2 separate regions of the Homo sapiens genome follow, and region 2 is linked to region 1. A link means that fine-mapping ties the variant in region 1 to the expression of a gene that starts in the linked region. Tissue or cell type: whole blood. Region 1 holds a variant in brackets; the other region holds the start of a gene. All regions are shown on one strand. Distances are from middle to middle.

Region 1 (2,684 bases):
AAAGTAATGAAATTCTGACACTACAACATGAACCTTAAAGACATTATACAAAATGAAATAAAGTCAATCACAAAAGGACAAATATTGTATGAGTTCACTTAGGTACTTAAAGTAGTCAAATTCATGGAGACAGAAAGGAGAATGGTGGTCACCCATGGCTGGGGTGAGAGGTGGAATGAGGAATTATTTTTTAGTGGGTACAGTTCAGGACCAGCCTGGCCAACATGGAGAAACACTGTCTCTACTACAAATACAAAAATTAGTCGGTGGAGGGGTGCACGCCTGTAATCCCAACTACTTGGGAGGCTGAGGCACAAGAATCTTTTGAACCTGGAAGGCACAGGTTGCAGTGAGCCAAGAGTGCACCACTGCACTCCAGCCTGGGCAACAGAGCGAGACTGTCTCAAAAAAAACAAACAAACAAACAAACAAACAAAAACCCGGTATTCCAGTATATAATTAACCACAATTTATTTATCCATTCTACTGGCATTGGGATTATTTCAAACTTGTAATGACTATGAACACTGTGGCACAGATACGGACGAGTTTCTCTGGGCTATACACCTAGGAGCAAAAGTCTAACAGTATGCATATCTTCAACTGTAATGAAATGGTTGTACCAATTTATATTCCCATCATCAGAAATGAGATTTTTTTCCTTGCTTTATACCCACACCAACAATTAGTACTGTCAAGATGTTTTTGCCAGGCCAATCAATTTAACGTGTTATCACAATGTGATTTTACTTTGCATTTAACAAATTACTAGTGTAAGCTTGAACATCTTTTACTACATTTATATTTGGATGTCTTCATTTGGGAAGTGCCTATGCCAGTTTTCTGCCCACTTTTTTAGAGTTTTTTTTTCTCTCAGTGAGTTTTTTATACGCTTTACACTTGAGCCCTTTAACAATTATTCATGCTGCAAATATCTTCTCTACTCTGTGGTTTACCCTTTTACTCTGTTAATAGTAATAAACCATTTGTTCCTCTTTTGATGAGTAGAAGTTGCTCATTTTAAAGGAGTCAAATTTATCAATCTTTCCCTTTATATTAGAGCTTTATGTGACTTGGTTAAAATATTTCCTTACCTCACGGACATGAAGATGTTCGCCTAAATTATCTTCTTAAAGATGAAGAAATAATTTAAGATTTGGGTGATTATCTTCCTCCTGCCAAACACCTGACTGTTCTAGCAGTCTGGGACCAAGCTGAGGTTTTCTCAGATGATCTGCTTGCTAGACAATCCCTGGGTACAGTC[A/G]TTCTGGAGTCTCAGCCTGGAGGAGGGGGTGTTTCATCAGGATAGCCACTTTTGGTAGGCCCTGGACTGCAACTCTTATCCCTTCAGCTCTGAAACTGCCAAAAGTGCACTTCTACTTCTCAGGCACTTTTTCCTAATTGACAAATACTCCATTTCCCCCAGGACAGAAGAAGCTCTGTATAGCCTCTATATAACGTACTTATTCTTAAACACAATGAAGATCCTCAACTACTTTTCCTTTAAAGGAAAGTACAGAATGCTATGAGAACCCATAGCAGAAGACCCTAATGGAAGTAAGGAGTGGATAGCTGGAAGGAAACAAGTAATGGTCAGAAAAAAATGTCTAAGAGCAGAAATGAAGGATGAGTATGAGAAGATATCTTGAGAGTCGGTGGCATCCTATGACATGCCAACAGAGGATGCTTGAATAGAGATGGTCCAGGGAACAGGAGAGAATGCTGATTAAGGAAACATAAAAGATAAGTAATGTGGTTCTACTGACCATTAAATCAAATAAAAAGAAATACTAATCATTACCTGCAATCTGTACTGAGCCATCTTCTCCAAGAAGAATGTTTCCAGCTTTCACATCTCTTTAAAAAAAAAAAAAAAGTTATGTATCAAAAAACATCTATTCTTTGGAGTAACATAATTTAAGCAATTGTTTACTATATTCATGTAATACTAGCAATATTTAAATGTCCTATTTTATATTAAAGGATATTAAGACTAATAGTAAAATTGTTGTCACTGGTACTAGAAACCCACACATTAAAAAGAAAGCTAGAAAGGTTCTTACTATAATATCTAGAAAACACAAGTGATCAAATATTCTTGATCGGGATAAAAGTGGCCAAAGAATGTGACCCTCACCTAATTCTACATTTTGAAATATATTTTTTTCTATACCCCAATGAATTATCAAATTTTTAAAATCATCAGTATGCAACTGAAAACAGGGAACATTCTTTGCCTGTAACAAAAAGATGGAAATTACTCAGGCATCTCTATAGTTTTAACTATTTATAACACGTAATATAGAAAAATATTCTTGTTTTAAAAACCTAAACACAACTAAAAAAGCCAAAATCCCTTTGACCATCATTCTCAAGTCTAAGTACTCTCTCCAAAGTTTTCAACTATTATCAGTCTGGTTAACAGACTATATACCGATGACATATCTGGGCTTTTCTCCCAATGTAAACAATATTATACTATCCATTCAAATCTACAACTTAGTTTTTTTTTAGCAAAAACAAGTTTTTGGCAAAATTTAAAATCCCCAAATCCTAAGAGTAGCAAAACCATTTCTTGATAACCTAGAGGAACTCTCACAATTTACAGGGAAAGTACAAGGGGGTTCTACTGCAGCATTGTTTGTAATAAAAAACAAAAACTAGTAACAGCCAGCAACAGTAGA
Region 2 (2,684 bases), 51 kb after region 1:
AAAAGAATTTTCCTTGAAATCACCCTAAGTAGATCTCCAGGTTATTCTCTATCAGAACATCTTGTTTATCTCCTTCATGGCACTTGCCAAAGCCTCTTCAAATTTTTTTTTTTTTTTTTTTTTTTTTGAGTCAGAGTCAGGGTTTGTCGCCCAGGCTGGAGTGCAGTGGCGCGATCTCAGCTCACTGCAAGCTCCGCCTCCCGGGTTCAAGGATTCTTCTGCCTCAGCCTCCCGAGTAGCTGGGATTACAGGCGCGCACCACCACACCCAACTAATTTTTGTATTTTTAGTAGAGACGGGGTTTCACCATATTGGCCAGGCTGGTCTCGAACCCCCGACCTCGTGATCCGCCCGCCTCGGCCTCCCAAAGTGGTGGGATTACAGGCGTGAGCCACCACGCCCAGCCCTTCTTACTTCTTTTTGTCTTCTTATTTAATGTCTACCTCCCCGACTGGAAAGTCAGTTGGAAGGAGTCGTAAGTTGGGTCTCGGTTGCTCAGCGCGGTTCCTGCAGCTTCACCTGGAGGATCCCCAGTTCGCCCCAGCACGGATGGAGGAAAAACTTAAAGCTCCCTATCTATCCCACAATCCCAGAAATCGATGGCTGTGCCCACTTCAAGATCCCATTTCTCACACAGCCTCGGAAAGGCCTGTCCCACACCTGCACTTTCTTTCTCTACAAGACACATGGGCCGCTCCTGTCCACACATTTGAGAATCCTGTACACAAATCTCTCCTGAGCCCCCTCAAGCCTCACCCCACCCCACGCCACCTCACAGGCGCGCGCCTCAAAACCCCCTTCCCGTCTCACACGCGCTCCTCGACACAAGCGTCCTACAAGCCCCCAGCCCCACAAGCGCCCCACGAATTCCTATGAGGGCTGCGCTCCCCGAGCTCCCGCGGCTCCCCACGTTCCCGTGTCCCCCGCCTCCCAGCGCCGCGCCTCCCCCCTCCGCAGCGCCTGCTCTCACCGATCACCTCCTGCAGCTCGTAATCGTCCCTGTTGATGGACCAGGGCAGGGCGCTCGAGTCCTCGGACATGACGGCGGCAGCGGCTCGCGGTCCTCCCTCAAACTCGCTGACCTCGCTCGTCTCCTCGCCGCGCGTCTCCCCACCCCCAACAGCCGCCGCCGCCGCCGCCGCGCCCCCACCAATCGTCTCGGAACAGCCACGGGTCGGACGGCGCCGGGGCGCGGGGTCACCGCGCGGCAGAGCAGCGGGGGCTCAGAGCTCCGGCGGACCTCGCCTCCTGCTCCTCCGAGTCCGGCACTGCCCGGCCCAGCCCACGTCCTGTCCTCGGCCTCCGCAGCAGCAGCGACAGAAGCTTTGCCTGGGCCCAGCCCCTCTGTCCCGCCCTCCACCCCAGCCCCACGCACGGGCCAAACTTTCCCCTCTTCCTCCACCTGCCGACACGCAGCGCGCTGACGTCACTGCGCTGGTCACGCCCCACCTCGGGCCCGCCTCCGGCCGCCATCTCCAGTGTGGCTGGATGTAAAGTGAGCAAGCTAGAAACCCGAGAAGGTAGGAGTTCGCGGTGAAAGGGAAGAAGTGCTTAGGTAGAGGTTCATCGAAGGCATCGAAAAGCCGTAGGAGAGCCTCAAGTAGCACAGAGGCAGTAGCCACACTAAGCATGGCGACCAAAGGGCAGCAAAGTAGAAGGGGCAGAGCCACTTCTAGCGCCTGGGGCACGCTGCTGTCTCCGTCGTCGCATTCATTGGTTTGTTTGAGAAGGAATCAGAAAAGCAATGGGTGTGGGTAGACGTCAGTCATAAATTGGTCCCGCCTCCAGGCTCTTAGCGCGCTTCTCCGTGTTAGGGCTGCAGCCCTTCAAGAGCTCCGTTACCGCGCTCGTCTTACCACTTCCTCTGGAGTGACGTCACGGCGTAACCGTCACACCCTCGAGACGTGCGAAAGGCTCTACAGGGTGTGGAGAAACCCTGAGGGAGCGGCTGGGTGGGGTAGCCTTTGGGTGTGGACCACTGCCAACTAGGATAAAAGGCCTTGGGCCACTGGTCGGAGTGAAACTGGAAGTTTGCCTGGTGACATTTTTTTCAAGGCGGACGTTCTCTCTAACGCTTGTCGCGGCGCTGTCTCTCGCGGGTCCACCCTGCACTGGGCGGGTTCTGTCCATTCGCAGCTTTAGATCTGAAGCTCAAATAAGCACCTGCCTTGAGGGACTCGGGAGGTTGTCTTTCTTCCCCCCGGACAGGGCTTGGGGTATTAAACAAGTGAGATCGACCCACGGATTTGGGGGTTGTCTCACGGGCGTTGGCTTTTGTCGCCCCCACTGAACAGTTTTCTCAGTTTGACTACGTACGGCCGTTAGAGAAATTAGCGAGCTGAAGACTGAACACGCTTGGTAAATTGGATTTTAAAAAATAATGAGCATCCAACAGGGATAGGGCTAGGTGCGAAACTGTTCTAGGTTGGACACCTTTCAGTCCAACGGCAGTCTTTAAGGAAGAGACCTTAGGCCGGGTGCGGTGGCTCACGCCTGTAATCCCAACACTTTGGGAGGCGGAGGCGGGCGGACCACCTGAGGTCAGGAGTTCGAGACCATCCTGACCAACATGGTGAAACTCCCTCTCTACTAAAATACAGAAAAATCGCTGGGCGTGGTGGCTGGCGCCTGTAATCCCAGCTACTAGGGAGGCTGAAGCAGGAGGCGAAGGTTGCAGTGACCCG

Evidence for each region. PIP is the estimated chance that this variant, and not a neighbour inherited with it, causes the effect.
Region 2: OXSR1 starts here. The variant in region 1 is fine-mapped to the expression of OXSR1 in whole blood (TOPMed, PIP above 0.99).

The regions. Positions count from the first base shown.
Region 1 is chr3:38,215,269-38,217,952 of GRCh38, reverse strand. OXSR1 (oxidative stress responsive kinase 1) reads right to left here. Exons shown (of 18, transcript NM_005109.3): 5 at 1,802-1,857. Among named protein-coding and RNA genes, the nearest start is that of SLC22A13, 49 kb to the left of the region's middle. The variant A/G (reference allele first, on the strand shown) is at 1,265.
Region 2 is chr3:38,164,233-38,166,916 of GRCh38, reverse strand. It overlaps OXSR1 (oxidative stress responsive kinase 1), which reads right to left and starts at 1,380. Exons shown (of 18, transcript NM_005109.3): 1 at 971-1,380. The coding sequence starts at 1,040. LOC101928234 (a long non-coding RNA gene) reads left to right here and starts at 1,441. Exons shown (of 5, transcript XR_940733.2): 1 at 1,441-1,520. RefSeq lists silencers at 886-935, 986-1,375 and enhancers at 607-1,222, 1,616-1,715, 1,986-2,115, 2,266-2,345, 1,506-2,684.